Linked DNA regions of Homo sapiens: region 2 is linked to region 1. The links come from fine-mapping of genetic effects on gene expression. A gene starts in region 1. The other region holds a variant in brackets. All regions are shown on one strand. Distances are between the middles of the regions.

The links. PIP is the estimated chance that this variant, and not a neighbour inherited with it, causes the effect.
Region 2: its variant is fine-mapped to the expression of LINC01219 in tibial artery (GTEx, PIP above 0.99). The same link has a PIP of 0.9 or more in tibial nerve.

What each region holds. Positions count from the first base shown.
Region 1 is chr11:1,988,743-1,994,110 of GRCh38, reverse strand. It overlaps LINC01219 (long intergenic non-protein coding RNA 1219), which reads right to left and starts at 3,015. Exons shown (of 3, transcript NR_126400.1): 1 at 2,852-3,015; 2 at 1,831-2,173; 3 at 642-856. MRPL23-AS1 (MRPL23 antisense RNA 1) reads left to right here and starts at 4,191. Exons shown (of 4, transcript NR_024471.1): 1 at 4,191-4,285. It also overlaps a transcript of MRPL23 not described here. RefSeq lists enhancers at 2,302-5,368, 2,302-5,368.
Region 2 is chr11:1,895,453-1,900,820 of GRCh38, reverse strand. LINC01150 (long intergenic non-protein coding RNA 1150) reads right to left here and starts at 4,062. Exons shown (of 4, transcript NR_120534.1): 1 at 3,676-4,062. It also overlaps a transcript of PRR33 not described here. RefSeq lists an enhancer at 2,802-4,001. The variant C/T (reference allele first, on the strand shown) is at 2,782.

The DNA.
Region 1 (5,368 bases):
AAGGCGGTTAGGGACGCCCCTCCCCTACCGGCCCAGCCGCCCTTGGGGTCTTGGTGTCCAGGGCGGAAGAGCAGGGTGGTTCCCCACGTCCCTTGGGTCTGGCCTCCCCTCTGCACCCTCTCTTGCCCCCTCCCCATCCAGCTGTGGGCCCTGGGGACTGTCAGAGACCGAGGGGTTTCCAGGGACACACTTGTGTGCTAAAACCTGGGCGGGTGGTCACCCCCCAGGATGCATGTAGACATCCGGTGAGGGAGTCTCTTGAAGTCTCTGGGATGGTGCCCCTGGGACTGGCTGCCATCTCATGGAGGAGGTCAGAGGTCGCTGGGGCCAGCCCAGGGTGAGGCCGCATTCATCTTCCTGACCCTACAGGCCAATTTGACTTACCCAAGTGGGTTTTGGCCGGCAGGATGAAGTAACCCATCCATTACATGTCAAGAGTTAGGTCTATAAACGGCCTTTATTATAAACATCCAACTCTGCAGGAGGTTTACAAAGCAGGGCTCAGGAGATAAAAGCCGGCTTCCCCAGGTGGCGGCTGCAGGGTGCGGCAGGCAGCCCCAGGGGTGCCCAGGGTGGCGGGGCAGGGGAACCGTAGGGAGGGGGAGAGGGGCACCCAGAAAACCTCTCCTGGAGAACATGGAAGACTCTGCCCACTTCAAATCCCTGCCTGGGGAAGGACACATGGGAATGGGGCCGGGGGAAAAGGCGGGCCACCTCGGGCCTTCGTCACCTGTGTCAGCTCCTAGGGATTGTCTCCTCCTGGTCACTTGGAGAGAACAGGCGTGCTGGACACGTCCACATCTCTGGGCCCGGGGTGTATGAATGACACGCTTGCTCTGGAGTTTCCACCTGGGAGCTGTATGGGGACAGGGCTGTTCCTCCTCACACCCGCTGGGGAAGGGACACAGGCCTCTTGGTGGCCCCCACCATCTCCCAGCACTGCCCATGGCTGTGCCCACGCTGGCTGCCCCCTGAGAGCAGGACGTGTACTCAGGGGCAGCGCCTACCTCTGGGCAGCCCAGGTTTCTCTGCTCCCTGCAGCGGAACGGGCTTCCTAGGGCAGTTCCTGGGGTGGTGTCCCTAGGGCAGCCCCTGAGTGCTGGAGGGGGTCTGGGCCACAGGCCCTGAAACAGGGAGGTGGTGGGGGCAGCGTTCAGGGGGCTGAACCTCAGGGTGAGGCGGGCAGGCGGGGAGCCACAGGCCCGGGGGCCCCGCAGCAGGTGCTCAGCCTCGGAGCCTCCTGCCGCACCCCGGGGCGGGGGCTGGGAGCCCGCCCGAGCCCCTAGCTCTGAGCGACCTGCCAGGTTGGAATGTGTGTTTATCTTTGGCCCAACCCGATTTCCTGCTTTTTAGAAAAGGGGCTTAGAGAGGGTTGTTAGACAGGCTCCAGGCACCCCAACACCCAAAGGCACTTTGAAAACGCCCCTGCACTGACTTCAGTGCGGAGAAGCAAACGGGCTGGAATTTCACTCCCAAACCCCAACATGGGGGTGGCGGGGCCGGGGTGAGGGTTGTGGCTGCCTGCAAAGGTGCCAGGAAATCTGGGGAGGGAGGAACTTCCACCGTTCAGGGAGACCCTGAGGGTGCCCTGGCTTCTGGCCACGTCCCAGACCCTGTTAGGCACCGAGGTCTTCACACCCAGACCCTCCACCCACCCAAGTTTCTGCGGCACGTTTAGGTTGAGTGAAGACCAAGTCATCCAGTTAGAGAAGAGGACTTGAGGCGCGTGCTGCTGCTGTGGCCACGCTGGACCCTCGGTGCACGCATCTCCTGGCGAGTCCCCTGTGGCTCTGTGGGCCGTACACACCCGGGGCACGCGACCTCAGCTACCTTGTCACCGAGGACGTGCATCCACAGCTGTGCGTCTGTGCCTGGGAGCGGGGTCTCCACTTGGTGGGTCTCTGCATGCTGACCAGTTAACCCGCCTTTCCGGGCTGTGGAGGGCGTGGGTCCTGTCCGGCCCGGAGATGCTCCGCGGGGTGTGTGTGTGATCGTGGCCCTGTAGCGGGGTGGTGTTCCCTGGAGGGTGGACCCCTGAGCCTGGCTGTGTGTGGCTGTGTCTCAGCATGAATTCCGTGACCCAGGAGCACGTTTTCAGGCAGGGATTAGGGGCAGCTGGGTGTGGGAGGCAGGCACTTGGTATACCACCGAATGGAGACAGAAAATCCCAACTCTACGAAGGAAGTGAAGTCCCTTCAACAGGGACAAAGCGATGTTTTGGGTCTGACTACAATGCACCCTGGGAAGTCTCAAAGAAAACAGTCGGGGACTCAAGGAGGGCAGCCCCCTCTCCCCGACCCCGAGCTCCCAGGAAGATAAATGATTTCCTCCTCTCTAGAGATGGGGGTGGGATCTGAGCACTCAGAGCCAAGGGCGCAGTGGGTCCGGGCGGGGGCCCTCCTCGGCCCTCCCAACATGGGGGCCAGGAGGTCAGCCCCTCAACCTGGACCCCGGCTGGGTCTCAGGGAATGGTCTCCCCCAGTGGCCCAGCTTGCTTGTGTTTTCAGATGGGTGTGCACGGGTGTGTGTGTGTGTGTGTGTGTGTGTGTGTGTGTGTGTGATGCCTGACAAGCCCCAGAGAGCCAAAGACCTGAGTGGAGATCTTGTGACTTCTCAAAAGGGGGATTGGAAGGTTCGAGAAGGAGCTGTGGTCAGCCTTGCTCTCCCTTAAGGCTGTGGTAACCACACTAGGCATAGCATAGGCCTGCGCCCCGTCCCTCCTTCCCTCCTCCGCGCCTCTCCTTTCTCTTTCTCCCCCCTCTACCCCGCTCCCTGGCCTGCTCCTGGTGACACCGTTGGCCCCCTTCCAGGGCTGAGGGAAGCCAGCGGGGGCCCCTTCCTGGAAGCCCACCTGCAGGCCGGCTTGCTGGGAAGGGGCTGCTCTCGCAGAGGCTCCCGCCCGCCCTGCAGCCGTTTCCTGGAAGCAGTCGCTGTGGGTATTCTGTTCCTTGTCAGCACTGTGCTTGCAAAGAAAGCAGACACTGTGCTCCTTGTCCTTAGGGAGCCCCGCTCCATCACCCAACACCTGGCTGGACACAGGCGGGAGGCCGGGTCCGCGGGGAGCGGCGCGGGGCTGGGGCCGGACCAGTAAACACACACGGGCGCCAGGCACTGCAGGCTCCTCCTCCTCCTCCTGCCCAGCGCCTCTGCTCACAGGCACGTGCCAAGCCCCTAGGCCAGGAGGCCCAGCAGTGGGTGCAGAGCAAGCTCCTGGGAAGGGGGTGCAGGGCGGACCCCCGGGGAGAAGGGCTGGCAGGGCTGTGGGGGACGCTGACCGTGGGCCCCACGTTGCAGAAAACTGGCTGCCTGGCTGGAAGATGGGGGAGATGCCAAGCCTCTGAGGCAGCACGAGCAGGGTGCATGGAGGCCGGGGCGCGGGGAGGCTGCACTGCAGCATGCACCCCAAAGCCCAGAGGGAGTGGAGACCAGGCCCTGGAATCGAGAAGTAGAAAGGCGGCTTGGAGGCCTCGGAACCGGCTGACCTCCAACAGAGTGGGGCCGGCCCTGGAGGCAAAGAGGTGCCCGGGGTCCGGCCCTGCCTGGGGGAGCTATGTGTCATGGGCAGCCACAGGATATGTAGCCAGCTCTGAGCATATGGACCCAGGGCAGGGCTGCAAGGCAGGGCAGGGGAGACAGACGGGGGAGCAAGGAGCAGAGAGGGGGCCTCAGGCTCTCCCAGGAGGAACATTCTCCCGACAGGAGGAAGAGACGGCCCAGGGGTGACTGTGGGGAGCCATGGTGGCAGCTGGGGTCGTGGCAGATGGGAGAGAGGCTGGCGAGGTGAAGGTGCAGGGGTCAGGGCTCTGGGGCCCACATGCCTGTGGGAGCGGGCAGGCCCAGGGCTCTCCGCCACTCCCCACTCCCGCTTGGCTCATAGGCTGGGCCCAAGGGTGGGGTGGGATGAGCAGGAGATGGGGCCCAGGGGGCAAGCAGGGCCCCAAAGACATTTAGAAAAACCGGTTTATGCAGGCAGCATTCAGAGCAGGCGGCGTGCGTGGCGGGGGCCCTGGGAGCACAGAGAGGCACACGTAGGGCCCCCGAGGGTCTCCCCATTGGCCGGCAGTGACATCACCCCTGTGTCAACAGTGATGTCTGCAGCTCCGGCCAGCCAGGGTTTATGGAGCGAGACCCAGCCCGGCCTGGGCCCTCACTCCCCAGGCCCACACACTAGCCCACTGTTCAGGGTCCGGGGTGGCAGCATGGCCTGGGGGTCCTGGCACCGCTGCTCCTCTGCCCACCCTAACTTCCCGGCATGGCGGCTGCCCCCTCTGAGCGTCCCCAACCAGTAAGTGTGGGGCCAGCAGGCCTGCCGTCCTCCTCCTCTTCCCTCTAGAGAGAAACGTGGAGGTCCTGGGGCTGGGGGCGCTCATAGCCCTGTGACACAGGTGCATGGGGTCAGGGGTCCCAGAATGGCCCCTGGGAAGGACCTCAGCTGGGCCGGCGGCTCTAGGCTTCAGGGGTCTGTCTGCACAGGGGCTAGCCCCTCCCAGACCTCTGTGAAGCCAGTACGGGCCTCCCCTCCCTGCCCCGTGCTCTGTCCGGTGCTTCCTGGACTGCACTGCGGGCCACTGGTGAGAGGGTGGACAGGGAAGGGCCGCCGTGGTGCCTGTTCCTGCCCACCTGGCTGTGTGGTCCCCTCCAAGTAGGGACAACCCTTCTGAGGGCTTGGGGGCACCCTGGGGTTGCCAGGGCCTCCCAGAGCCCTGTGAGCCCCTGGGGGGTCTGGCCTGATGCCCCCCTCCACGTCCAGGGCCGGCTGTGGCCCAGAACCCCAGCTTCCCAGCAGGCCGGTGTGCGGTGGTGACCCAGGAGAGGCCTCACCTCCACTGAGGGGCCACCGACCTCTGCCAGGCCACAGAGACCCCCAAGGAGTCTGAAGGCTGGAGACCCGGGGCTGGGACCAGGTGGGACTTTCCCACGGAGCCGCCCCCAGGCCCAGCTGGGGACACGTCCCCCTTCTCTCCAGACACACCCTGCCTGCCACCACGACACACCGGCCTGTTGGGGGTCTCTTTTAAGTGCTTGCCACTCTGAGGTGACTGTCCCTTTCCAAAGAGGTTTCTGGGGCCCAGGTGGGATGCGTCGGCCTGAGCAGGAGGATCTGGGCCGCCAGGGGCTGGGGACTGTCTCCTGGGGAAGGAAGCGCCTGGGAGCGTGTGTGCTGACCCAGGACCATCCAGGGAGGCCCGTCTGTGGGGCAAGCGGGAAGGGAGCGGCTGGAGAGGCTTGGCCGCCCCCGCCCTGCCTCCCATTCCTTAGCTCCATGCCTGTCAACCTCTGTCACCCAGTGAGTGATGTCCAGGGGCCCTGGAAAGGTCACAGCATGTTTGAGCGGGGTGAGAGAGAGGGGAAAGGCGGGGGCGGGGAA
Region 2 (5,368 bases), 93 kb after region 1:
TGCCAAATAAGAAATGATGTTTAACCTTATTTGAGATATTGTTTGTGAATACGTCATTAATATATGCTCCAAAATTGTATGGGGTTCCTAAAATTCTGATACATCCGGGTATATGCTGTCACTCTTAATTACAGTTAAGTTATTGTAGGCCACAGAAGTAATCAAAATTCCTTGTCAGTTCTTCTTTAACCATGACCATTTTACGTCATTTCCAGAGTTAATTGCTTTTTTCTGACGTTTCTGAAAACTCACAAACACACACAGTCCTACAATATTGAGTCCTCCAGGAGGTTCGTGAAAGGAGAGAAAGGACCCTGATAAGCCCTCTTGAATAGGCTTCTGATAACTTTAGTGTAATGTCATTTGGACTGGGTAAAAATTCCCGGAACTCTAATGGAAAGATTGACTGGTTTATAAAATTGCTAACCTGGGCAGGACAAAAATTAATTGAATACCAAGAAAACACTTTGCCAGCTTTTCATGCTAAATCAGCCAGTACTGATATTGTTTAGATACCCAATTTGAATTAAATCCATCGTCCAAGTCAAATTACCTATGATAACCCTTCTAATAAACAGTGCTATGCACCTGAACTGGAGAAACAAAATTGGTATTTAAGAAGATATAAGTCCAGCATCAAGCATGGACACATGGACAGCCAAGATGGCCACCTGGTCCTTCCTGTGTCCTTGAAGCTTCCACTATTAAATGCTCTGCACTCCATGATTCATCATGGAAGAGACAAATTAATCCAAATTTTATATATATATGTATATATAATATACATATATATATTTGACATGGTGACCGTTGTAAGTTGTTAAAATGGTTTACGACCAATGTTTGGTCTGCCAAACCCATAATCCTGGGAGGACAATCGAAACTTCCATTACACTTCTGCTACTTGATGGGCCATTGAAACATTGCTGGAGGGATTTCCTTCAATTGTCATTTTCAATGCGTGTTTTCTGGTTATATAGAAGCTTTCCCAGGCAAGAGCACTGATGTTATAGCAGTAGCTAAAAGATTATTAGAAAATTGTTTTTCTCATGGGACGTCCCTTGAGAAATCTCCCATGATAGATGTACTTGTTTCACTGCTCAAGTGGTAAAACTGTTAATAACTTGTTACAGATACAATAATATTAAGCAAGGGAAATGAATGAACTGGGCTGCCTTGGTCAAGGGTGTTGCAGGTGGATGGCCGTCGGGTCCATTTCCAGTGGAAAACATAAGTTGGTGCCTTATGAAATAGTCCCTGGAAGTCCTATATAGAACCTCATGTATCTTCCACTCCTCAACTCCGATATGGCTAAAGGCTCCTAGGCCTTAATGCATTATGCCTAAGTATATTTTCACCAGGTACAGAAAGCTTTTCATGGTCCACTGAGGACCCTATCAAACGCTTCACAATCTAGAACCCAGACATTTGGTTTTCTGAGAGTATCACAGAAAGACTGCCCTTGCCACCCACACTGCAGTGAAATTCTAGGACTTTGAACCCTGGGTTCGTTATCTCACCGCTCAAGAGGGCATCGCCAGACTCCAGCAACTGCAGCCCCATTGGAGATTTTAAGGTAAAGCTAATCAGGGAAGTTTCTCCCCAGAAGCAGCTGGCATCCCAGATATGGACAGCTTTTTCCCAAGAACTTGAGACTGTCATGCCTCTGAATAATAGAACTAAAAAGGGATCTCTTATGTGCACTCATGGGGTATACTTTTATTTGTGGAGGATTTTGCAGCCAATCCTATATGTGGACAACCTTTTGCCTTGACAGTTGGAAGACGAAGGGCCAATGTAGGTGAAAAAAAAAATTAGCTCACTCCAAGTCTCACTCTGTTGCCCAAGCTGGAATGCAGTGGTGTGATCTCAGCTCACAGCAACCTTTGCCTCCCAGGTTCAAGCGATTCTCCTGCCTCAGCCTCCCAAGTAGCTGGGATTACAGGCACCTACCACCAAGCCCAGCTAATTTTTGTATTTTTAGTAGAGACAGGGTTTCACCATGTTGACCAGGCTGGTCTCGAACTCCTGACCTCAAGTGCCCACCTCGGCCTCCCAAAGTGTTGGGATTACAGGCGTGAGCCCCTGTGCCCGGTCTGGGTGAAAAATGTTGAGGGTGCCTTTGTTGCTTCCCAATCAATCACAAACAACATCGCTCCACTCCTCTACATCACAGCTTAAAGAGAACTCTGGCAGGAGCTTCACTCTTCTAGATGGGCACTGTTTGTGAGGCCTCTTTTTCCATGGTTTGGAGTAAATGAGGCAAAGATTTAAAATGTATCCCTCTGCTGGGCGTGGTGGCTCACGCCTGTAATCCCAGCACTTTGGGAGGCCGAGGTGGGTGGATCACAACGTCAAGAGATCAAGACCATCCTGGCCAACACGGCAAAACCCTATCTCTACTAAAAATATTAAAAATAAGCTGGGTATGATGGCGGGCGCCTGTAATCTCAACTAATCGTGAGGCTGAGGCAGGAGAATCGCTTGAACCCAGGAGGTGGAGGTTGCAGTGAGCCGAGACATGGCTGGCGCCGCTGCACTCCAGCCGACGGAGCGAGACTCGGTCTCAAAAAAAAAAAAAAAGTATCCCTCGTAATTGGCTCTGGAACAGATTCTACTCCAAAGGCTATGGTTACACAACAGTCTTTAAATTCTCTTGCTAAAGGTGTGTGGGATGATAGACTTGCTCTGGATCCCTTACTAGCTAAACAGAGGAGCGTCTGTGCCGTTGCCGATGCTTCTTGTGGCACATGGAGGAATGTATCAGGTATTAGAAAGGTT[C/T]GGTTGTAGGGGATTAACAAACAGGCTGCTTGTTTGAAATGAGTAGACTCTTTATCCAGCTAACTCTCTGATCTATTTGATTTTCGTTGGTTTGCTTCATGGGACCCCACCTAAGGAGCATGCTTCACATTCTTGGTATTAAATATGATCTTCCTGATGGTCATAATACTCGTCTCCCTGGCGCTCTGCATTCTCTCCGGAGTTTTAAATGTTTGCATGCAGCCATCTGTAGGATGCTAAATGGTGTCTCTTTGACTGGAGCAACAAGAACTCAAAGAAACACAAGGCCATGAGGATGTCGTAACCTAGGTACGAATGACATTCTGTGACCGGAAGCTGGAAGTGGCGGTGACTGAGGGTGGTGCCAAGGCCCTAAGGCTTGGCTACACTTTCCACTAAATGAGAACCTGACCAAAGGCAGGGAATTTTTAAACAAAATTATAAGAGGCCATTGTTTTGGACTGAGCTCCCGCAAGAGGCCCCAACGGACCAGACCAAACCCAGATGGAGTCACGCAAGCTAAACGCAACACCATCAAACCGAAGCTTTACGGAAGCAGATAGGTCCTAAGGCAGACCAGGGTTTGTTTTTCTGAGCACATGAAATTCCAGCACAAGGAGGTTCCTCTCTATCCCTTACAAAAATATATAACCCGAGGTCCTCGTTCCCACTTACGAAACCCATTGTTCTGCTATTTCCCAGTGGGGCTTGGGACCAAACAAGTACATTTACAATGGCGACAGGGACACCAATGTCTAAAGGGGGAAATCGTTAAATTAAGCTTGGCGTAAAGCTGCCTCCTGACATAGTTTATGTTCCGCCTTCTCCATCCACTGTGAACTGAAACCTCACTGGAGACGTAAACAGACTGAAGCCTTCCCTTGTGCCACTCACCAGGTTTCCGCTCATCAAGGGTGCCGGCCATTCCAACCGTGTTCAGATAAGGCAAGCATGGAGCTGCAGCCCCTCTGGCGGTTTCTGTGCTTTGCTTCCGTTTTCTGTGCCTCCTTTCCCTTTTCTGTCCACCAATCTTCAGCCACACGGCAGCACCAGAGCCTCTCTGAACCTATTTTGGTTTGGGGGCTGCCCCATTAGCGAGTGGTTCTTTGCTTAATTAAACTCTGTTAAATTTAATTTGTCTAAGGTTTTTCTTTTAACAGTACAGAAAAAGCATTTGAAAAATCCAACGTCGGTTCCTGATTTGTTTAAAAAACATCACTCAGTAAATTAGGAATAGAGGGAACTTCCCTAACCTAATACAGGATATCTATGAAAACCCCACAACCGATGGCGGAAGACTGAACAGTTTCTCACTAAGAACAGAAAGGAGGCTGGGATGTCCGCCCTCATCACCTCCGTCCAACATTGACCTGGAGGTTCCTGCTCGTGCAATTAGGCCCCCAAAAGAAATAAAAGCCATACAGACGAGAAAGGAAAAAGAAAACAATCTTATCTACAGATAACGTGACCATCTAACCCGATGGAATCAACAACAAAAGAAAAACCTGCAAGAACTACTCAGTGAGATTAACAAGGTTGTGGAATAACAAGACTGATATACAAAGTCCATTGTGTTTCTATAAAATGGTAATCAACTATCAGATATTGACATTAAAAATACCACTTCCTAACTGTATAAAAATAGACAATACTTAGAGGTCAATCTGACAAAAGATGTGAAAGACCTCCAAATTGAAAGAGTAAAAAATCCTTGGAAGAAGTGGAAGAAGACCTGAATAAATAGGGACATCCAAGGTTCGTGGATTAGTAAGTTCAATACTGTTAAGATGTCAACTCTCCCTGCATTTATAGAAATTCACAGGTCCATTCTAAAACACATATGGAAAAGCAGAGGAGGAGAAGAGCTAAAACAATCCGGAAAAAGAACACAATTGAAGAGCTAACATTCTAAGAATTCATATAAGACCAGTGTAAGCAAAACTTGAGTGATACTGGTGTAAAAATATTCAAGTAGATCCAAAAGAAAACGGTCCAGAAATCAGCTTACACACACAGACTGATGACTTTTTTTCAGGCAGGGTCTCACTCTGTTGCCCAGGCTGGAGTGCAGTGGTGCAATCTCTGCTCGCTGCAGCCTCAAATTCCCAGGCTCTAGGGATCCTCCCACCTCAGCCGCCCAAGTAGCTGGGACCGCAGGCACCCACCACCATGCACAGTTCAGACTTTTGACAAAGGTGCAAAGGCGACTCGGTGCACAACTGTAGCTTCTTCAAGAAACCATGCTGCAGCAATTTCATATTCTGGAACAACTGGATCTCCATATGCAAAAAGAAAAAGAAGAATAATTTGCATTCGTACCTCACACTATACACAAACATTAACTCAAAAAGGATCGTGGGTCTAAATGTAAAGCTGGAGCCATAAAAACACAGGAGAAAATCTTTATGGCTCTGGATAAGGCAAAGATTTCTCAGACATGATACCAAAAGCACAATTCCTAAAAGAACAAATTGACAAACTGAAATTCATCAAAAATGTTTAAAATTTGCTCTTCAGATGGTTAACGGTGAGAGGACAAGGCCACCAACCAGGAGAAAAATCTTTGCAAATCTATTTCATCAAGGAT